Linked DNA regions of Homo sapiens. The protein of the gene in region 1 purifies or fractionates together with the protein of each later gene. This does not show direct contact. Each region holds a gene or a part of one and is shown in the gene's direction. Other genes may lie near its edges. The genes, in order: SLC47A1, POMK and TCTN2.

What was found.
Region 2: the proteins of SLC47A1 (region 1) and POMK purify together in Homo sapiens (affinity purification with mass spectrometry; 3 studies listed by BioGRID and IntAct, with this or other methods). This does not show direct contact.
Region 3: the proteins of SLC47A1 (region 1) and TCTN2 purify together in Homo sapiens (affinity purification with mass spectrometry; 3 studies listed by BioGRID and IntAct, with this or other methods). This does not show direct contact.

Annotation. Positions count from the first base shown.
Region 1 is NC_000017.11:19,564,838-19,571,941, forward strand, and holds part of SLC47A1 (multidrug and toxin extrusion protein 1), read left to right. Parts: intron 1-1,952; coding exon 1,953-2,022; intron 2,023-2,258; coding exon 2,259-2,391; intron 2,392-6,007; exon of another isoform or gene 6,008-6,640; coding exon 6,641-6,735; intron 6,736-7,104.
Region 2 is NC_000008.11:43,089,383-43,096,554, forward strand, and holds the start of POMK (protein O-mannose kinase), read left to right. Parts: upstream 1-4,132; 5' UTR 4,133-4,181; intron 4,182-7,172. UniProt on the Homo sapiens protein: Protein O-mannose kinase that specifically mediates phosphorylation at the 6-position of an O-mannose of the trisaccharide (N-acetylgalactosamine (GalNAc)-beta-1,3-N-acetylglucosamine (GlcNAc)-beta-1,4-mannose) to generate phosphorylated O-mannosyl trisaccharide (N-acetylgalactosamine-beta-1,3-N-acetylglucosamine-beta-1,4-(phosphate-6-)mannose).
Region 3 is NC_000012.12:123,666,211-123,674,141, forward strand, and holds the start of TCTN2 (tectonic-2 isoform 1 precursor), read left to right. Parts: upstream 1-4,902; 5' UTR 4,903-5,030; coding exon 5,031-5,112; intron 5,113-5,296; coding exon 5,297-5,404; intron 5,405-5,845; coding exon 5,846-5,922; intron 5,923-7,404; coding exon 7,405-7,600; intron 7,601-7,931.

The DNA of each region.
Region 1 (7,104 bases):
AGCCTCCCGAGTAGCTGGGATTACAGGCATGCACCACCACACCTGCTAATTTTGTATTTTTAGAAGAGATGGGAGTTCTCCATGTTGGTCAGGCTGGTCTCGAACTCACCACCTCAGGTGATCTGCCTGCCTTGGCCTCCCAAAGTGCAGGGATTACAGGCATGAGCCACCACTCCTGGGCCAGTGCTGGATTTCTTATTTAGTAATTAAACAAGTATTTATTGGGAGACAGTCTTCTAGGTTCTAGTTTAGAGTGACAAAACTCACTCCAAGGGTGTTGTGAATTTCCTGCTTCCCCAGGTCAGGGCAGCATTTTTCTCATCTCCCTTCACATGCAGAGGTTAGAATCCAAGTCTCTAGCTTTAGGGGTTCCATTTCTAGGAACCAAGGATAATTCTGCAGAATATATCTATGGCCTTTACCAACCTTCGTTCCATAGAGGGAACTTAATTTTTACTCTGTAGTGCTTCACTGAGGCTTACTAGGAGACACAGTCAGACTTGGCCTGTGGCATCATCTTAAAAGAAGGATGATCATAGCATCCAAACTTGCCGGGATGATAGGTGCGTGCCACTGTGCCCAGCCAAACTTCTTTTCAGCTGATGGGGAACGGGGGAGGGATGTCACCAAATCCCTTGATTTGTCTACACTGACCAGATGGACTATGCGGTAACCCCTCTTTATCCTTGGTTTTGCTTTCCAAGGTTTAGTCACCTGCAGTCAATTTTGGTCTGAAAATCTTTTTTTTTTTTTTTTTTTTTGAGATGGACTCTCGCTCTGTCGCCCAGGCTGGAGTGCAGTGGCATGATCTCAGCTCACTGCGAGCTCTGCCTCCCAGGTTCACGCCATTCTCCTGTCTCAGCCTCCCCAGCAGCTGGGACTACAGGCGCCCGCCACCACGCCCGGCTAATTTTTTTGTATTTTTAGTAGAGACGGGGTTTCACCATGTTAGCCAGGATGGTCTCGATCTCCTGACCTTGTGATCCGCCCGCCTCGGCCTCCCAAAGTGCTGGAATTACAGGCGTGAGCCACCGTGCCTGGTGGTCTGAAAATCTTAAGTGGAAAATTCCAGAAATAAACAATTCATAAGTTTTCAATTGCGTGCGGTTATGAGTATTAGGAGGAAATCTCACGTCCCGCCTGGGACATGAAATCATCCCTTTGTCCAACATCTCCACGCTGTGTGTGCTTTCCACCCGCTAGTTATTTCAGATTGACTGTTTTGGTATCACAGTGCTAGTAATCCCAAAGCACAAAAGTAGTGATGCTGGCATGTGGTTATGGCCTACTTTATTACTACTGTTGTTACTCTCTTACTGTGCCCAAATTATGAATTAACATTATCATAATGTATTTGTGTATAAGGAAAACACAATGTATTTAGGGTTCAGTCCTCTCTGCGATTTCAGGCATCCACTGGGGGACTTGAAACATATCTCTTGAAGACAAGGGTGTGGTGCTGCCTATTTTTTCTAAAAGCTGTGAGATACAACATGCAGTTAGTTTCCTCTATGGACCCAGCAACAGGTGAACTGTCCCTGACTAGGCTGCTGGCCTCAATGCATGTGCATGTCTGTAATATGCAGAAAGCTATATACTTTTTTTTTTAAGACAGTCTCGCTCTGTCATTCAGGCTGAAGTGCAGTGATGAGATCTCAGCTCACTGCAACCTCTGCCTCCCGGGTTCAAGCGATTCTCCTGCCTCAGCCTCCTGAGTAGCTGGGATTACAGGTACCCACCACCAGGCCTGGCTAATTTTATATTTTTAGTAGATACGGGGTTTCACCATGTTGGCCAGGCTGGTCTCAAACTCCTGACCTCAGGTGATCCTCCCGCCTCAGCCTCCCAAAGTGCTGAGATTACAGGCATGAGCCACTGCGCCTAGCCAGAAAGCTATATACTTCTTTCTCCACTTTGTCTCCTAATCACCACGTGCTTTATTTTCCTAACAGAGACATCATTAATCTGGTGGCTCAGGTGGTTCCAATTTATGCTGTTTCCCACCTCTTTGAAGCTCTTGCTGTAAGTATTATGTAGTAGTCCCCTAAGCACTGTTATGATCTTCTGATGGTGGTAAATTTCAGCTGAGAGGAGGGGCCAGCATAGGTAGGAAGATTGAATATTGTTACCACATTTCGTTTAGAAGGATACTGTCACCTTACCATGGATTTTAGCACAGAATATGAAGTGCTCGGGAGATGGGAGTGTTTCAAGAGCGCCGGATGTGTTCACAGTGATGGAATGCTCTCTGCCTGCAGTGCACGAGTGGTGGTGTTCTGAGGGGGAGTGGAAATCAGAAGGTTGGAGCCATTGTGAATACCATTGGGTACTATGTGGTTGGCCTCCCCATCGGGATCGCGCTGATGTTTGCAACCACACTTGGAGTGATGGGTAAGCTCTAACCTCTGCAGGCAGGGCTTAGCTGCTCACCAGCCCAGGAAATGACCGTCGGAGCACACGGGTCTTTGACTGAGGCTCACCTCTGAAACTCGGGAGCTCGCCCACGTCCATTCTGTGTCTTGTCAGAGAGTGTAGGGGGCGTTCAGGAGGTGACCTCCAGCTCTAGCCAGGGCCCCAAGGCTATGTGGTCCTGCCCCTCACACCCCTGCGGGCGATCTTCCACGCTGACACACTTGAGCACAGATGCCCTTTCTACCAACCTCCTATCCTGAGTCATCCAGCCCTCACTTCTCTAAAGGAGGCAACAGCAGGGACCGCTGAAGAAGCATTTGGAAGCATCCCCTTAGTGTGTTTCGTGCTGTTCTTTAGAGACAGCATGTGAGCCCCTGAGGGTGACTCTGCAGGGCCAGGGCTATCGTAGGCGGTCCTGCGTGCGTGGGGTGCTGCAGGGTCTGCACTCACGGTGGCACTCTGCATCCTAGAGCAGTGCCCCATGTGCTCACCAAGCAGCATGGCTGGATCCTTGGAGGGCAATGGGTGGCCAGTGCCCTTCTCATCACCCTCATCGCACTCCGCAGCCTCCACCTCCCTCCTTGTGCAGCCTTAGCTCTGTGCCCCCACAGAGCTCCCCACAAGGCCATACACGTGGTCGGTGTGAACAGCACAGAAGGAAGGGGGCGGACTTGAGCACCTTCCCACATTTGGAAGAAAAAACTTAATCCACAGCATCTGAAATTACCAGAGCTAATCTTTTTAAAAAGTACGGAAATAAATGACTGCCCAGCTTTGATTTCTAAAATAATAATTTGGAACATATTGGCAGTTAATAAATGATGATATGAAAACCTGGACATTTATCTTTGGGGTGAGTAGTGACTGACTTAAAGCGTGGCTTGTTTTGATTCATCTGTACTTGGCAGGCTCAGAGGTGGTGAGAAGTCAACTGATACCTACAGGGAACTTCCAGTTCAGTATGTTCCTTTATGTGGCACATTTTTCTCAAGTTCAATAATATTTTAATTAAAAATACAGGAGTTGTTCAAAGAATAGTATTGCCAATGCAAAGTTCATTGGGCTTGCATGATAGTGCAGAAAATTATTTAGCTGAGTTTCTGGTGCGATTCATAGTTTGGATTTGCCAATTGCCTAGCTAATGCAAATATTATAGAAATCTAATTTATTTTTATTTTTAAAGTAATGTATTTTATGTAACACAATATGTCTAAAATTATTGCAACGTGCAATCAGTATAAAATATTAAGGAAATAATTTAAATTCTCTATATTATATCTTTTAAACTTTAAATTGACAAATTATAGTTGTATACATTTATGGGGTACAGTGTGGTGTTTTGATATATGTATAAAATGTGGAATGATTAAATTAAGCTAATTAACATACTTATCACCACTTATTTTTTATGGTGAGACATTTGAAATTTACTTAGTTAATTCAAAATGTGCAGTACATTGACTACAGTCACCCTGGTGTGCAATTGATCTCAAAACTTATTCTTCCTGTCTATCAGAAATTTGTACCTTAACAACTCCCCATTCCCATGCCCTCCCCTCCTTGCCACCAGTCCCTGCTAACCATCATTCTACTCTCTACTTCTATGAGTTCAACTTTTTTAGAAGAGGAGTCTACTTTATTCTCCTGTTTCATTTTTTACAGATGGGGTCTTGCTATGTTGCCCAGGCTGGTCTCAAACTCCTTGACTCAAGTGATCCTCCCACCTTGGCCTCCCAAGTATCTGGGATTACAGGCATGAGGAACCTGCTTTGAAATATAAATCCATCTGTATCCCAAGTGCCGTCCTTGGCTCACCTATTCATTTAACAGAATATATCTAGGCCAGGCACAGTGGCTCATGCCTGTAATTCCAGCACTTTGGGAGGCTGAGGTGGGTGGTTCACTTGAGGTTAAGAGTTTGAGACCAACCTGGGCAACTTGGCGAAACCCCGTCTCTACTAAAAATACAAAAATTAGCCAGGTGTGGTGGTGTGCGCCTGTAGTTCCAGCTACTTGGGAGGCTGAGGCACAAGAATTGCTTGAACCCGGGAGGCGGAGGCTGCAGTGAGCAAGATGGCACCACTGCACTCCAGCCTGGGCGACAGAGTGAGACTCTACCTTAAAAAAAAAAAGCGTAACTAATTGTGCAAAGTAGAAGAGGAAGTTGAGAATCACTGAAAAGAAATGGTGGGGGCCCTGGGGATGTGAGGGCTCTATGAGAAGCCTATAGTCAATCCCCCCCACCCACCTATTAGAAGAAATTGTGGTACGAATTGGTTTTGAGTATTGTGTCTCCTGGTATGGTATGCAGTATACCTATACAAGGTGTCTAGGAGAGCATCAGAATTCTGCAGGTTCTCAGAAGCAACCTCAGGAAATCATAATGACCCTCAGAATCCCTGGGAGACATTTTAAATATGTAAATTCCTGGGCCTTGCCCATGAGATCTAATAATCATCCCACTTTGGGCTCATAGGTTGGGTCAAATAGAAATCTTTTAAATGATGTATGCTAAAATTATTGGAAATCTAATTCATAACTTTCAAATTATAGCTGGAGTTAGCTGGTTATTTCCTGTTTAAGGTGGTTCAGGTGAGCTTGTAGTTTCTATGTACTGAGAACACTGGATTTGAAAGAGGAAGCCAGTAGCTTGCTTTTACTAATTTTTTATAGGACTAGCAGGTGGCACCAACTATACTATTCTAAGAGCAGGCTAGGCTGGGCGTAGTGACTCATACCTATAATCCTAGTGCTTTGGAAGCCAAGGCAGGAGGATCACTTGACTCTAGGAGTTGGAGGCTGTAGTGAGCTGTGGTCATGCCACTGCTCTCCAGCCTGGGCAACAGAGCAAGACCCTGACTCTAAAAAGCAAACAAACAAACAAAAGGGCAGGCTGATCATACCTGAAAAATGTGATTGGTACCAAGAAACAGAGCTGTAAAACCTGTACCGAATCCATAAACCAGGAACCCAGACTAGCCACCTTAACCCTTACATAGATCTGGACAGCTGTGGAAATAAACCAGGACCAACCAAGCAAGACAAGCAAAGTCTGTGTATTCTCAGCAAGGGTGTTGGCTGCCACCACTTGCATTTGGGCAGAAACTCAAAGGCAGGCAAAGGAGTGGGAAAGCGTCACAGTGGATAAAAGGGGAGGCTGCAGGTGTGTCCTGAGTGGAGATTGTTGATCTGGGGGATGCTGGAGGTGGCTGACTAGAAATGGGCCTCCCATGTGATTGGTTAGGGGGATGTATTTTACTTTCTCTGGTTGGTCCTAAGTTGGAAGTGCAGACCAAAATTAGGCAAGCTGTCAGTTGCTAATCAAGTCCTGGCCATCTGGGGCCAATCGTTACAGAAGTTACTGGTTAGCTTCCTGGATTGTTACCAAAGGCAGCGATCTTGCTTCCTGCAAGTCTGATTTAGGGAAGGCTGGCTTCCTGGGTTTATTGTAGATGGGGTGGGGTTTCTTGGGCAGGGTGCTGCAGGTTGTGAGGCAGAGGTCTGTTTTTATTACGGTCAGGACTTTGTCTCTTGGTTATTGTTGGAGCTTTTGGTTCTGCCATTAGTTTACTGTTGACCAAAAAACCCTCCTCACCTGGGGTCTCCCTCTGTGCCCTGTGTGGTGCCTTGAGATTCACAGGGCTTTTCCCGCCATCCATTCCCACCTGGCCTGCCTTTGGTGTTCTCCAGTCATCTGTAGGTGCTCAGCCCTGCTCTGGAAGCTTCTAGCAAAGTCTGTGTCAGAAGCAAGTTAAGGTCCAAGGTCTGGCAGGAACTCTGAGGAAGAGAACATTAGTAGTTTATATGGCTAGTGATTTCTGCTTTTTTTTTTTTTAATGTTAGTCCCCTTTTTTGAGGAAACCAGGGCAGAAGTAGTTGGTCCTGGGAAATTTTAATTTCCTTATAACTGGCATTTTTCTTAATATTCAAGCATTATAATCAGTAAGGCCAAAAATATCCTCTGAATATTTGTTCCGAAATCCTGAACCAAAAGAGATGGCCCTTTTGGGGGTGGCCTCAAGGAGTACTGGGCTTTCCAGAACCTTCTGGAACCTTCTGGAAGCCTGAGGAGGAGCAGGATAGAGGTCTCTGGCCCGCTGTGGGCTCCACCTCAGCCATGAAAGCAGATATTCAGTATGGCTGACAGAAGTGATATAGGCAAAACATACTCCCCAGGGGCAGCTGGTTTTCTATGGAATTAACCTCTATTAAATATTTCTATTTCTAGGTCTGTGGTCAGGGATCATCATCTGTACAGTCTTTCAAGCTGTGTGTTTTCTAGGCTTTATTATTCAGCTAAATTGGAAAAAAGCCTGTCAGCAGGTAACTATGTTCATTCTGTCCCGGTAAAGGTTCCTCTCCTAGAAAAACAGGATCTGATCTGGCTCTCCCTTTTTTCTTTTGGAAAGTTCTTTTCTCATTTTCTTTATTCTTATCTCATGAATACTATTGTTCTTGTTGTTTTAACTAGACAGTTCAGATGTGAAGGGCCAGATGATCCTGGCTTTATCTATTCCCAGAAAAACAGGGGACTCCTTTCTTCCTTGTCTCCCATGCCAGGCTGTCACCCTTGTGCAGGAAAATCCAATTTCAGGACAAGAATTAGAACTGGAGAGAAATGTGGGATGCATCAAAGTCATCCTGATGTTGTTTTTATGGTCTCCAAATGTTTTGTTAAGATACTTGTGTGCA
Region 2 (7,172 bases), on another chromosome or scaffold:
GCTGGGATTACAGGCTTGAGCCACCAAAGAACTCTTTTAGCAGTTCTGTTAGAGTAGGTCTGCAGGCTACAAATTCTCTTAGTTTTCCTTCATCTTAGTTTATTTCAAGGTTATTCCTGAAGGATGTTTTCACTGCATATGGAATTCTGGGCTTGCAATTCTTTTCTTTCAGCACTTGAAAAACGTTGTGCCACTTTGGTCTTCATGATCTCAGAGGATAAATTCACTGTCATTAGGATTGTGGGTCACCTACAGCTCGTGGCATTTCTCTTTGGCTGTTTTCAATTTTTTTTCCTTGTCTTTATTTTTCAGCAGTTTGATTTTGATGTGTCTGGGCATGGATGTCTTTGGATTTATTGCATTTGGGGTTTGCTCAGTTTTTTGAATCTGTAGGTTGGTGTTTCTTTCCCAAACTTGGGAAGTTTTCAGCCATTATTTCTTCAAAAGCTTTTTAGTGCTTTCTTTCTCATCTGCTTTGGGATTCTGATGGCATAAATATTAGACCTTTTGTTATGTCCCACAGGTGCTTGAAGTTTTATTAATTTTCCCCTCCTCTCTGTTGGTCAGTTTGGATAATTTCTATTAATCTGTCTTCATGTTCACTGACTCCTCTGTCATTTCCATTCTGCCATTGAATCTATCCAGTGAGTTTTAAAATTTGATTATTGTACTTTTCTATTTTAAATGTTTATTTGGTTCCTCTTACTTTCTCCAAGTTTTTTACTCATACTTTCTTTTTTAAAATTATTATTTTTTATTTGTTTGAGACAGAGTCTCGCTCGGTGGCCCAGGCTGGAGTACAATGGCACGATCTCGGCTCACTGCAACCTCCACCTCCCAGGTACAAGCGATTCTCCTGCCTCAGCCTCCTGAGTGCACCTGCCACCATGTCCGGCTAATTTTTGTATTTTTAATAGAGACAGGGTTTCACCATGTTAGCCAGGCTGGTCTCGAACTCCTGATCTCAAGTGATTCGCCTGCCTCAGCCTCTCAAAGTCTTGGGATTACAGGCGCGAGCCACTGTGCCCAGCCCCATACTTTCTATTTTAACTTTTGTTTCAAGAATGTTTATAATTTTTTGAGCATTTTCATAACTAATGTCTTTTTCAGATAATCCTAACAGTCATTTTATAGTTGGTGACTCTTGATTATCTTTTCCCATGCAAGTTGAGATTTTTGTGATGGTTCATATGCCTAGCAATTTTGTATCCTGAGCATTTTGAATATTATGAGGCTCTAATTCTTGTTTAAATCCTATGGAGAATGTTGGCATTTTAATTTTTTTTTTTTGAGAAGGAGTCTTGCTCTGTCACTCAGGCTAGAGTGCAGTGCTGTGATCTGGGCTCACTGAAACCTCTGCCTCCTGGGTTCAAGTGATTCTTGTGCCTCAACCTTCCGGGCAGTTGGGATTACAGGCATCCGCCACCATGCCCGGCTATTTTTTTTTTTTTTTTTTTTTTAAGTAGAGACCGGGTTCCACCATGTTTACCAGGCTGGTCTCAAACTCCTAACCTCAGGTGATCTGCCCTCCCTAAGTGCTGGGATTACAGGTGTGAGCTACCGCGCCTGGCCAACAGTTTAATTTAAGCAAGCACATGAACTAGTTAGGGACAGCCTGCAGGTTCCGATCTTCTTCTGGGGTTCATGTTCCAAAGTGAGTTCTGTGTTCATACCCTCTGTGGGGCTATTTGGATCTGTCTCGTGGCTGCATCCTCCCGTAGTTTGGTACCTGAACAAAAATCTGTTCATGAGCACAGTTCTCTGAGTGTTTGGTGTGCTCGTTAAGTCGATGATACGCAGGTCAGCGATGAGCCCAAGAGTTCAAAAACAACTCTGTGAGGTTGCTTGCCAGATGCTCTCACCTTCCGCTATCTTCTCAGTGTTTTTAGGTTCCCTCAGGTTTCAGTGCGCTGGTCTGAAACTTCCCACTTTCAGTTTGGCTTGGGGGAGCTGCCCACTTCCACAATTGTGCCACAGCAGTGGGAAACAGTTAAAAACAACAAAACACCAAGTTTGTGTCTGTCCTCTTGGAGCTGCAGTGCTACTGAATGGAAAGGACTATCTCTTTCCCTCAGACTTTTGGCTGCTGAAGCTTTTTGCTCTGGCCTTGGGCTTGACTGGGGGCTGGAGTGCAAAGAAAAGAAGAAAATAGAAAGAACAGGGAATTTTCTTCACTCCCTCTGAGGGTTAGGAGTTTCCTTTTCTGCTCCACGAGCCAGAATCAGAGGGTTTCTCCCGAGTCTCTGTGTGTGCCCCCGACACTCAGTTCCAGGCTTTGGACTACCTTCAGCTTGAAGATGGGTGACACAACCAGTTTGATGGTGCGTCAAATTCTGCTGTTCTTTTTATTTTTAATTTTTTGTTTGAATTTAATTCCTCTAATTTTTCATCAGTGTTAAAATTTCACCTTTTCCCAGCACCCCCAAAAAGCCTGTGGGCACAAAATGGTGGCCACGTGGCAAAGAACTCAGCAAGGAGAGCTGCTGGTTGGTTTCTATCTTTGTTTGTTTGAGACGGAGCTTTGCTCTTTTGCCCAGGCTAGAGTGAAGTTGTTGGGGAAACCAGCCCCACACCACCCGGCGGGTACCCCGAGTCCAGCGAAGACAAAGGAATTAGAATAAGAGTTTAAAAGGCGGGTCCGGGGGACCGGAGCGTTGGAGGCTTGCTCACGGCCCCGAGCTCTCGGCCTCCACCCAATTTATTGGTGTATATTCACACTGTTGTGCAACCATCACCCCCATCCATCTCCAGGACTTTACCATCTTCTCACACTGAAACTGTGCACCCGTTAGTATTTTTCATGGCTATGTGGATGTAATATAATTTCTTTCAGAAACCCCTATTGTTATACATTCAGGTTTCTTTTTTTCTCTATTATAAATATCTTTTATCAGCAATGCTTCAGCAAGATCTCTTGTGCATACATCTTGCAGACATATTATTTCTTTTTCTTTTTTTTTTTTTTTTTTTTTGAGACGGAGTCTCGCTCTGTCACCCAGGCTGGAGTACAGTGGCGCGATCTCGGCTCACTGCAAGCTCCGCCTCCCGGGTTCACGCCATTCTCACGCCCGCCACCATGCCCGGCTAATTTTTTGTATTTTTAGTAGAGACGGGGTTTCACCGTGTTATCCAGGATGGTCTCGGTCTCCTGACCTCGTGATCCGCCCACCTCGGCCTCCCAAAGTCCTGGGATTACAGGCATGAGCCACGGCGCCCGGCCACAGACGTTATTTCTGAAGGATAAATTCCTAGAAATGGATTTGCTAGGGCACGTAGGAGGAATTCCAATTTACACTCACTTGTATGTGTGAGGAAACTTTCAGACTCTACTGTAACGACAGGAGGTATTACCGCTGTTTGTCCATGTGATAGGCAAACGTTTCTGTTAATTTTAATACTGTTTGGATAGCTAGTACCGGCTCAGTTTTTTTAACCCACACCATGTTACTGTCTTGATTCTGGACTTTCGCAGTGTGTCAGTGTAGAAGCAGCTAACGCTTCCGATGTACACAACCTAGACGTTCCATGACCCAGCTGACTTCGATGCTGCAAGCCTCCCTTTCGGTTTCCCGGAGCAAGCGCCCGAGTGCGTGTTGGGCTCCCGGCAGGGCTCCTGGCCGGCCCTCGACGGACTTCCCCGCCTTTGCCCAGTCCTGCCCCTCCGCGGAGGCTTGCCAAGGTCTTGTCTGCTGCGCTTGATGTGTGCAGCTCAGCTTTACTGCGTCTAGGCTAAGCCCCACAGTTTCTTTTACAGAGCGATTGTCCAACTTCAGGCATCTGGGTCCCCGAGTGGCGGGTCTGGGCCGGAGCTGGGAATCAGCCTTTCCAGCAAGGTCCCTGCAGATGCCGCGGGTCTGAGGACTACGCTTTGGAAGGCCTCGCAGTGCGTCTAGATCTGACAGCTGCTCTGCATGAGCCTGGCTCCAGGCTGAAGCAATAGTCGGTCAACACAAAATCGTTCTCCCAAGTTAGGGAAGCAGAAGCCAGACAGGGAGACTGGGTAGGTGCGCGCTGGTACCGCCGCGGCGTTCGCTCCGGCTTCAGTGCACGGCCGGAGGAGGACGCCAGGGGGCAGCAGCGCCACGCTCACCCGCCCAGGACGCGCTTCCGAACGCGCAAGCGCAGTAGGCCCAGTGCGTGCTGGCCCGGGGTGGCAGGAGCCGCAGAGGCTTGGGCTGCAGGTAGGTGCTGCGGCGAGGGGTGAGAGGGCGAAGGGGCGAGGGGGCGTGCAGCTGGGTTTCCCGGGGGACCCTGTACGTGGCCTGGGCCGCACCCCCCGCAGCCCCGGCCGCCTGCCCGCGGCCTGTCCGGAGGCTCCCTAGGAGGCTGCGCTGGGCCTGAGCGGCCGTGTCCACCGCGCCCAGCCCCTATCTCCGCGTCCACCCCTGCGCGGTAGCGGGACGTTAAAGAACCAGAGAAGGGCCCGGCGAGGTGGCTCCAGCCTGTAATCCCAGCGCTTTGGGAGGCCGAGGCGGGAGGATCGCGTGAGCTCAGGCGAGAGCAGCCTGGGCAACATGGCGGAACTTCTGTCTCCGTAAAAAAGCACTTAGCCGGGCGCGGTGGCGCCGCCTATAGTCTTATCTACTCCGGAGGCTGAGGCGGGAGAATGCTTGAACCCGGCGGGGGCGGAGGTTTCAGTGAGCCGAAATCGCGCCACTGCACTTCAGCCTGGGGGCCAGAGTGAGAGGCTGTTTCTATTATTATTACTTTATCATTATTATTATTATTTGAGACGGAGTCTCGCTCTGTCGCCCAGGCTGGAGTGTAGTGGCGCGGTCTTGGCTCCTGGGATTACAGGCGTCCGCCACCACGCCCGGCTAATTTTTGTATTTTTAGTAGAAACGGGGTTTCCCCATGTTGGTCAGGCTGGTCTCGAACGCCTGACCTCAGGTGATCCGCCCGCCTCTGCCTCCCAAAGTGCTGGGATTACAGGCGTGAGCTACTGGGTCCGGCAGAGGCTGTCTCTGTTTAAAAAAACAAAAACCAAACCAAACCAAAACAAAACAAAAAACAAAAAAACCAGAAAGGACCGAGGACTCTGTCTCAGCTCTTTGCCTTTGGGTGTTTATTCTGCACGAGATCATTGTTGCCAGGAGGTGTTAAGTGTAATCATATTCTCTTTTTTTTAGAAAGCAAAATTTCGCTGTTTTGTTGCATAATCTTGTCTTTGCCACCCTTTGCCTTTGCTATAGAACCTTAAGGCTAAATAAGCGTTCAGAATATTTAAAATAATCCTCTTAATGTACCTTGTGCTTTATTGGCGCAATGGAATTCTACTCTAAACTGTATTGGATGACATTACTCTGTGTCTTCCCTAGTTGTAGAAAATATCTTGTAAGTCGGTAAAAACTAGTTTTGTCCCTTTGCTTTTCTTTTCTTTTTAAGCTGTAAATGTGGAGCAGTGGGTCCCAAGCCTTTCTCTATCAATAAGCCTTCCTATCAGTGTCAGAAATGCTTTGCATTTCAGTCGTGCCTGAATTTCTTCTGCCCAACCTGCCCCACCATCTTTATTCCTTAATGTGCAGGCTGTTTTCAGGACCAGTAAATTTCAGTGGTTTTTGCTTACTTCTGGACACGAAAGTTCCTTTAGCCACACAGCCTCATGCTATGCTCTGGGCGGCCTACTCCAGAATATGCCTGTGAAACAAAAAAGCAAATCGGGGTTGAGGTGGGCTGAAGTCTTCTTTAAGAAACCGGCAGTCCCAGGGTACCCCAGCCCAGCCCCTAGCTGACCACGCTGGGTTTGATTTAGTTCAACTCCCGAGCATTGCGGTATTTAGGGGAAGAATGGGCTTGAGGCCAGAAAACTTGGCTCTTCTGTGTATAGTTCAGTGACCTTAGATATATTACTTCACCTCTGACTCAGTTGTCTTATCTGTGAAATGGGAATAACAACAATTACATCCACTTCACAGAATTGGTGTGAAGTTGACAGTGTATAAAAGTCAAATGAATTTTGGGGTATTTTTTTTATTTGTTTTGTTTTGGTTTGGTTTGGTTTGTTTTTGCCGAGAGAGGATTCAGAAGTGAATGTGAGGACTTAGGGATATATAAAAGGTTTTTGGGGCATATGAAATTTGGATTCAGCAAGAAATGCATTAAAGGTTTTCTGAGTAATGCTGAGGGTCCAAGAGAGATTAGAAAATATGCATTTCTAGAGTCCCACAGAGTTTTGTAGCTGATGTTGGCAGCCTTTGAGTGGAAATGAAGAAGTGGACAGGGCAAGTTACATGGGTCTGGTGAATGACAAGCAGATCTGGGTTTATGATGAAGCCTCTAGCCTCTTCACTTGCACAAATACCTTCCAAAACCTTGCACAAATCCTCTTGCCAAAACTCTGGCAAGAGGCTCAGCACTTTTACATTCATAACTATTCTTCTCTTAAGGAATTACCACTCCTTGCCCCAACTTGTATAAGCTTCAGGCCCCATAAAACCTGAATCCACTAGTGGCAAGGAAGGATTGGTGGGAGGTTAGGGGTAAGGAGGGTTGGAGGGTTGAAAGGATTTATCGCAGGGTTTGAGCTGGGAAACTTGGATTGGAGAAGGAGGTGGCAGATGAGGGTCCTCAGAAGACAGGAGCCGTGAGGAGAGGAAGAGCGGATTCCGTGGAGCGAACACAGGAGAGGGAAAGCAGCCTGTGCGGCTGAGGCCATGAAGAGGGAGAGGTGCAGAGTGACCAGGCAGTTGGTGCGTCTTTGCCGAGTACCCGCTGTGTGCCAGGCACTGGGGTGCAGTGGTGAACAGGACAGGCAGGCAGGCTTCTTGGTGCTCAGAATCTAGAGGAAGCCGGGGCCTGGGTATCCCAGAAAGGGAGCCTTTGAGGAAAGCTCAGGGGCCAGAGAGTGTGGTGCAGGGAGGGTTTAGGGAAGCAGATAGGGGCTAGATTTCAGGAGGCCACATAAGAGTTTGGACTTGATCCTGTGGGCCGAGTGGGGGGCTGTTGAATGTTAAGCAAGGTGGGATCAGATCCGTGCTTTAGAAAGCTCTCCCTGCATGGGCCGGACATGGTGGCTCATGCCTGTAATCCCAGCACTTTGGGAAGCCAAGGTGGGCGGATCACGAGGTCAGGAGATTGAGACCATCTGGCCAACATAGTGAAACTCCGTCTCTATTAAAATACTAAAATTAGCTGGGCATGGTGGCACGTGCCTGTAATCCCAGCTCTGTAAT
Region 3 (7,931 bases), on another chromosome or scaffold:
CATGTGCTTAGAAGAATGTATTCTATAGCCATTAGATGAAATGTTCCATAAATATCTATTAGGTCCATTTGGTCTATAGTGCAAATTAGGTCTGATGTTTCCTTGTTGATTTTCTGTCTGGATAATCTGTCCAATGCTGAAAGTGGGAGGTTGAAGTCTCCAACTGTTATTGTACTGGGGTCTATCTCTTTCTTTAGCCCTAATAATATTTGCTTTATATATCTGAATGCTTCAGTATTGGCTGCATATATGTTTACAATAGTTATATTCTCTTGCTGAGCCTCTTATTATATAATGACCTTCTTTACCACTTTTTTTTTTTTTTTTTGAGACAGAGTCTCACTCTGTCACCCAGGATGGAGTGCAGTGGCATGATCTCAGCTCATTGCAACCTCCACCTCCCGGGTTCAAGTGATTCTCCCACCTCAGTCTCCCGAGTAGCTGCAATTACAGGCACCTGCCACCACGACCAGCTAATTTTTTTTTTTTTTTTTTTTTAGGCAGAGTCTCGCTCTGTCGCCCAGGCTGGAGTGCAGTGGTGTGTTCTCAGCTCACTGCAAGCTCTGCCTCCCGGGTTCACGCCATTCTCCTGCCTCAGCCTCCCAAGTAGCTGGGACTACAGGCACCTGCCACCATGCCCAGCTAATTTTTTTGTATTTTTAGTAAAGATGAGGTTTCACCATGTTAGCCAGGATGGTCTCAGTTTCCTGACCTCGTGATCCTCCCACCTCGGCCTCCCAAAGTGCTGGGATTACAGGCATGAGCCACCGAGCCCAGCCTAATATTTGTATTTTTAATAGAGATGGGTTTTCGCCATGTTGGCTAGGCTTGTCTTGAACTCCTGACCTCAGATGATCCACTCACCTTGGCCTCCCGAAGTGCTCGGATTGCAGGTGTGAGCCACTGCGCCTGGCCTCTTTTTTTTCTTTTTCTGTGGAGATAGCATCTTGCTGTATTGTCCAGGCTGGTCTTGAACTCCTGGGCTCAAGCAACTCCTGGGTTCCTCTTGCCTCGGCCTCCCAAAGTGTTGGGATTACAGGCATGAGCCATCACACCTAGTCTTAAAATCTATTTTATCTGATATAAGTATATAGCTACTTTTGCTCTTTTTTGGTTTCCATTAGAATATCTTTTTCCATCCCTTTATTTTTAGTCTATGTGTGTCTTTATAGGTGAAGAGTTTTTATAGGCAGCTAATCATTAGGTCTTTTTTTTTTAAATCTATTCAGCCACTCTATGTCTTTTGATTGGAGAGTTTAGTCCATTTACATTCAATGTTATTATTTATAAGTAAGGACTTACTACTGCCATTTTTAAATTTGTTTTCTGATCTTCCCTTCCTCCCTTCCTTCCATCTTCCTTTTTATGAAAGTGATTTTCTCTGGTGGTATGTTTTAATTTCTTGCTTTATATTTTTGTGTATCTGTTGTAGGCTTTTTGATATGAGTTTAGCATGAGGCTTGCAAATACCATCTTATAACCCATTATTTTAAACTGATGACAACTCTGATTGCAAAAACAAGCAGAGAAAACTAATACTCTAACTTCATCCCTCTGATTTTTAACTTTTTGTTTCTACAATATTTATATCTTATTATACTATGTCTTAAAAAGCTGTAGTTATTATTTTTGATAGGTTTGCCTTTTAGTCTACTACTCAAGATATGAATAGTTTACATATTTGTAGAGGTGCCACCTTGGTGATCTTGGGTACGATCTTGGAGAATTCCCTGGATCACCGTTAGCAGTGACGAGTCTGTACAGGTCTGCAGCAACTCGATTCTTGCCTCCTCAGAGGAAAGAATTTGGCCAAGCAGCATAAGGCAGAGTGAGAGACCAAGGCAAAGTTTAAAGCAGGGGTAAACGTTTATTAAAAAGTTTTAGAGCAGGAATGAAAGGAAGTAAAGTACACTTGGAAGAGGGCCAAGCGGGCGACTTGAGAGATTCAAGTGCCCCGTCCGACCCTTCACTGGGGGTTTCTATACATTAGCATGGTTCTGAGGTTTGTGCCCTCCCTTGATTTTTCCTTGGGGTGGGCTGTCTGCATGTCAGTGGCCTGCCAGCACTTGGGAGGGGCCGCATGTGCAGTGTGTTTACTGAAGTTGTGCGCATGCTCATTTGAGGCATTTTCCTTTACCAGTCGAGCCTTCCCAGAGGAAGGTTATATACCAGTTAAAATCTGCCATCTTGCCTCTTACTATGTATGCATGAGCCTGCTTGCCCAACTCCTGAGATCTTATCGGGAAGCTGCTGATCACCAGCTTCAAGTGTTTTCTATCTTTTTTTTTGAGATGAAGTCTCACTCTGTTGCCCAGGCTGGAGTGCAGTAGCGCGATCTCGGCTCACTGCAACATCCGACCCCTGGGTTCAAGCGATTCTCCTGCCTCAGCCTCCCGAGTAGCTGGGAGTACGGGCATGCGCCACCACGCCCAGATAATTTTTGTATTTTTGGGTAGAGATGGGTTTCTCTGTGTTGCCCAGGTTGGTCTTGAACTCCTGGCCTCAAGTGATCCATGTGCCTTTGCCACCCAAAGTGCAGGGATTACAGGCATAAGCCACCAAGCCCGGCCCAGAAATGTTTTCTTTTGGGAGGATTTATCTCTTAATCTTTACCGCTTGGCCTTGCCAACTTAATTTGCAGATTAATTCCCCCCAAAGACAGATGGGGAATAACAGAAATATTTAAGTGTTTGACAGCTTCCTCTTAGTAACGTTCTCCTAGGCTTCATTCCAAGATATCAAGAGAGGTAAACATTTTGCAGTCTTCCAGAGAGGAGCTGAGGTACACGGGAAAAGTTTCATGCTCATGTTACAACTGTAGTGACCCACAGTTTTTCAGGGAGTATAAGAAAAAGATAACACCCAGTGTCAGGCCCTTATAAAGCCTCAACTTTCAGAATCCTTTCACAATGTTAGATTTGCTGATCAATGAATATATAACTGAACATTAAGAGTAATAATGGGGCTGGGTACGGTGGCCCATACCTGTAATCCCAGCACTTTTAGAGGCCAAGGCAGGAGGATCACTTGAGCCCAGGAGTTTGAGACCAGCCTGGGCCACATGGTGAAACCCCGTCTCTATAAAAAATACAAAAATTAGCCGGGTGTGGTGGTGTATTGCCAGTTACTTGGGAGGCTGAGGTGGGAGGATCAGCTGAGCCCAGAAGTTTGAGGATGCAGTGAGCTATGATTGTGCCACTGCACCATTCCAGCCTGGGTGACAGAGTGAGACCCTGTCTCAAAAAGAAAAAAAAAAAAGACTAATAATGGCAAACATTTACTTGGCATTTACCGTCAGTCAGCCACAATGCTGAACACCATGATTGTCTCAGCTAAAGGATACACCACCTCTCTGATAGTTAACAAGTAACTGATCATTAACTGAGTGCTTACTGTATGCCAGCCATTGGTTTAACCTCATTAGATATGTTACCTCATTTCATCCTCACACAATCCCCAAGGAAGGATTATTATCATCCCTTTTTTATAGATGAGGAAGCTGAAACTTAGAGAGGTTGACTTGCCCAAAGTCACTTAACAGCTGAGAATATCTGTGGAGGGAAGGCGAAATCCCATGCCAGGCAGCCTGACCTCAGACCCTGCACTCTCAGTCCCCAAGCCGTGACAATATTTGAAATGTTCTGAGGCTACTGATATAAGAAAAAACAATTTTTTTCCAGACAGAATTTTGATTCTTTCACATCTGTCCTATTGCTGGGCAAAACCTCTTGTGTGTTCTGTGATTGGATCTGCTTTCAGAGTGCTGAGAGCTCTGTGCAGGGGAGAAAATCCTTCAAAAACCTAGGAGAATGATAATAAAAGCAATAGTGATAATAAATGATAATGATAAGAATTATAAAAATATAAATTTTATAAAATTATAACATATAAGTATAAAATTTACAAAATATATACTTATATAAAAGATAAATATATATAAGATAAAATATAAATACATATATATTTTATAAGATAAATAAATAAATAAATATATTTTTGAGACGGAGTCTGGCTCTGTCGCCCAGGTTTGAGTGCAGTGGTGCAATCGCGGCTCACTGCAACCTCCGCCTCCCAGATTCATACAATTCTCCTGCCTCAGCCTCCTGAGTAGCTGGGATAATAGGCGCCTGCCACCACGCCTGGCTAATTTTTTGTATTTTTAGTAGAGACGGGGTTTCACCATGTTGATCAGGCTGGTCTCAGACTCCTGACATTGTGATCCGCCCGCCTCGGCCTCCCAAATTGCTGGGATTACAGGCATGAGCCGCCAGACCCGGCCTATATGTATTTTATATATATCAAGTATGTATATCTGATATATATATATAAAACAAAGTATATCTATTTTGTAAATATATATTTATTTTATAAAAATATAAAATATAAATAATACATCATAAACGATAGTAAAGATAATAAACACAGCGCGGCAGCCCCATCCCCTTTTTCTACTCACCCCTAAAACAAATCCGTATAAAAATCAAGTTTATTAAGGAGCAAGTCCCACCCTTTTTATTTAGAAGCCAGTGTCTATAGGATCGCTCTTGGCTATTGTTGGATTAATTCCAGGGTAGGGGAAAACTCCAGTTTTTGAGCCGGACACGCACTCCTGCTTTTCAGGACCTTTTTAATTTTGATGTTTTCAACTTTTAGGCCCAGGGGTCCATGTACAGGTTGCTATATAGGTAAATTGCGTGTCACGGGGGTTGGGTGCACAGATTGTTTCGTCACCCAGGTACTAAGTGGAGCACCGGATAGGTAGTTTTTCAGCCCTCACTCTCCCCACCAGAGTCAAGCAGCAAAAATGCTAGGCCTTGTGGGCGGGGCCGGGGTGCCCGCTCTTGCCACTGGTCCAATCACAGCGCGGCGTTCCTCCTGGCCGGCCGCCGATTGGTGGTTGCCATAGCTCCGGGCGTTCGCTTGCAAGATGGCGGCGGCGGGGCAGTGGCTGCTGCGTTTTCGTGTCTGAGTCCTTCCTGGGTTCTAATGAGGGCGCGGTTCTGCTGTGCCCGGCCCGCGAGGTCTAAGGCATGGGCTTCCAGCCTCCGGCCGCTCTTCTTTTGAGGCTTTTCCTTCTGCAGGGCATCCTGAGGCTTCTGTGGGGGGACCTGGGTGTGTACGGCGCGGCAGTGACCTCGGTGGGCCGGGGCTGAGGGGACTGGGCGTTAAAAGGGCCAGACTTGGACTCCCCCGGGAGCTTCGGGAGTCGACAACGCCAAAGCAAGCCGCCACACACACCTTAGGCGGTGATTCTTCCACTGCTAACCCCTCCTTGTCCCCTTTCCTTCCCGCCTAGCTTTCATCCCTCCTTTTATCCGAATGTCCGGCCCTGCGGTCAGCGCGTCCCTGGTCGGAGACACCGAGGGTGTGACCGTGTCCCTGGCAGTGCTGCAGGACGAGGCGGGTAAAGTCCGGCCCTCTTTTGGGGAGGGTGGGGGTTGGACTGGATCCAGACCTCCCAAGGAGCCTGGAGAGGTGGCATCCTTGGGGCCCCCTGCCTCTGTTCTCTGCAAAGTCGCATGGGGAGAAAAGGATCGGGCGGCTGCTGTAGGCCAAAGAGGACAGACGGACAGGTTCGAAGAAAGCCTGAAATAATAATGGTTAGCATTCATTGAGCTAACATCGTGCATCATCCCATTTTCCTAGTAAGAACAGTAATATCTTTTCATCCCCTTTGACCAAGGAAGAAACAAGTTCAGAGAGGTTGTCACTGTCCCAGTGTCAAGCAGCTTGTAAAGGGCCCAATCTTAGGCTGTAATGTGAGTCCATCCTAGGCAGTCTGACTCAATGCACCCCCTGAGCTGCTGGACCTTGCTGCCTTTGCATGCTGGTCTTCTTTCTTTAGGAATATTGCCAATTCCGACGTGTGGAGTGCTGAACAATGAGACGGAAGACTGGAGCGTGACTGTGATCCCCGGTGCGGTAAGGCCAGAAGTAAACCTTCTCTGTAGCCTGTGAAGAGGCCCCCAGCTAGGGTTTCTGCAGTGCTCTCTTTATTTAACAAGGCATGGCTTTCTCCATGCTCTCAACAATCATGAAATTGTGGGCTGTTGGATCTGGTAGACACTTATCCAGCCCACGGGTTCCTTACCCTGGGGTTAGGAGTCCTTGGATGTATTTCAGTGGGTCTGTGAACTCTATGAAATTGTATGTAAAGTTCTGTGTGTATGTGCATTTTTCTGATGAGAGGGTCACCAGTTTCCTTTAGATCATCAAATGGGTCAGTGATTCAAAAAAGCTTTATGCCAGGCATCGTGGCTCACGCCTGTACTCATAGCGCTTTGGGAGATTGAGGCGGGAGGATTGCTTGAGCCCAGGAGTTCCAGACCAGCCTGTAACATAGCGAGACCTCGTCTCTACAAAACAATTAAAAAAAAAATTAGGTGGGTGGCGTACACCTACAGTCCCAGATACTTGGAGGGGGGTGGGGTAGCTGAGGCAAGAGGATTATTTGAGCCCAGGAGTTCAGGGCTGCAGAGAGCTATGATCGCACCACTGCACTTCATCCAGCCTGGGCAACAGAGCAAGACCCTGTCTCTTAAAAAAAAAGAAAAAGCTGGTCAGGCGCGGTGGCTCACGCCTGTAATCCTAGCACTTTGGGAGGCCGAGGAGGGCGGATCATCTGAGGTCAGGAGTTCAAGACCAGTCTGGCCAACATGGTGAAACCCATCTCTACTAAAAATACAAAAATTAGCTGGGCGTGATGGCGGGTGCCTGTAATCTCAGCTACTTTGGAGGCTGAGGCAGGAGAATCACTTGAACCCGGGAGGCAGAGATTGCAGTGAGCCGAGATCACGCCACTGCACTCCAGCTTGGGTGATGAGCGAGACTCCGTCTCAAAAAAAAAAGCTTCATAACCACTGATCTTGCCCAACTCTGAGCTTATGTGTAAGGATACTCAAACCTGGAGAGATTAAGCATCTTCTATTTAATAAGTGTTTATTGGATACCTAGTATATGCAACATCAATTCTGGAGAGAAAAGGACAGGAAAGACAAGCTCTGCTTGTACCCCAGGAGTGAACATGTACATGTCTAAAGTCATTCTGGGATAAACTGAGGATTGTTTTCATTGACTTTTTTTGTGTATTTACTCTTCCACTGATAGGATGATAAAGAAACTAAAAAGGTGTACAATAAACTGAGTTTATTTATCAGATCTGTGTTTAGCTTTCTCTAAGTATCCCGAAGTTGTTTGCTTTTATGTTAAGGAAGAAGAATCAGGGCTTGCATGTTACCATAGGTTTATGGGGGGGAACTGAAGATAACTGTGTCATCTCTGTATACATTTCCCTTTTATAAAATGAACGGAGGCTGATGTGTACTTTTATTGTGTTTTCCATTATGTATTCTTATAGACCCTGTTTTGAGTCACTTTAAAAATACAGCAATGTTTTCCTTTCAGAAGGTGTTGGAAGTGACAGTGAGGTGGAAGAGAGGTCTGGACTGGTGTTCCTCCAATGAGACAGATTCCTTCTCAGAGTCCCCCTGTATCCTCCAGACCCTTCTGGTTTCAGCATCTCATAATTCATCCTGTTCAGCACATCTACTCATTCAAGTGGAAATTTATGCCAACTCTTCTCTGACCCATAATGCCTCAGGCAAGTGAAGTCTTTGACTGTCAAAACTTTCATGTTGTTCCCAGCTACTTAGGAGGAAGAGGTAGGAGGATTGCTTGAGCCCGGGAGGTTGATGCTATAAATGAGCTGCCCGGGAGGTTAATGCTACAAATGAGCTGTGATCGCGCCACTGCGTTCCAGCCAGGGTGACAGAGTGGGACCCTGTCTCAAAAAAAACCAAAAACAAAAACAAAAAAAGAAAAATTTGTGTCAAGCTTACCTGTTTGATTATAAGTGTATGCCATGCAATTTGTAAAGTATACTTCACTTGAGTCTGTCTTGCTTTTCTAAACTTATTTTTCTTTTGTTTAGT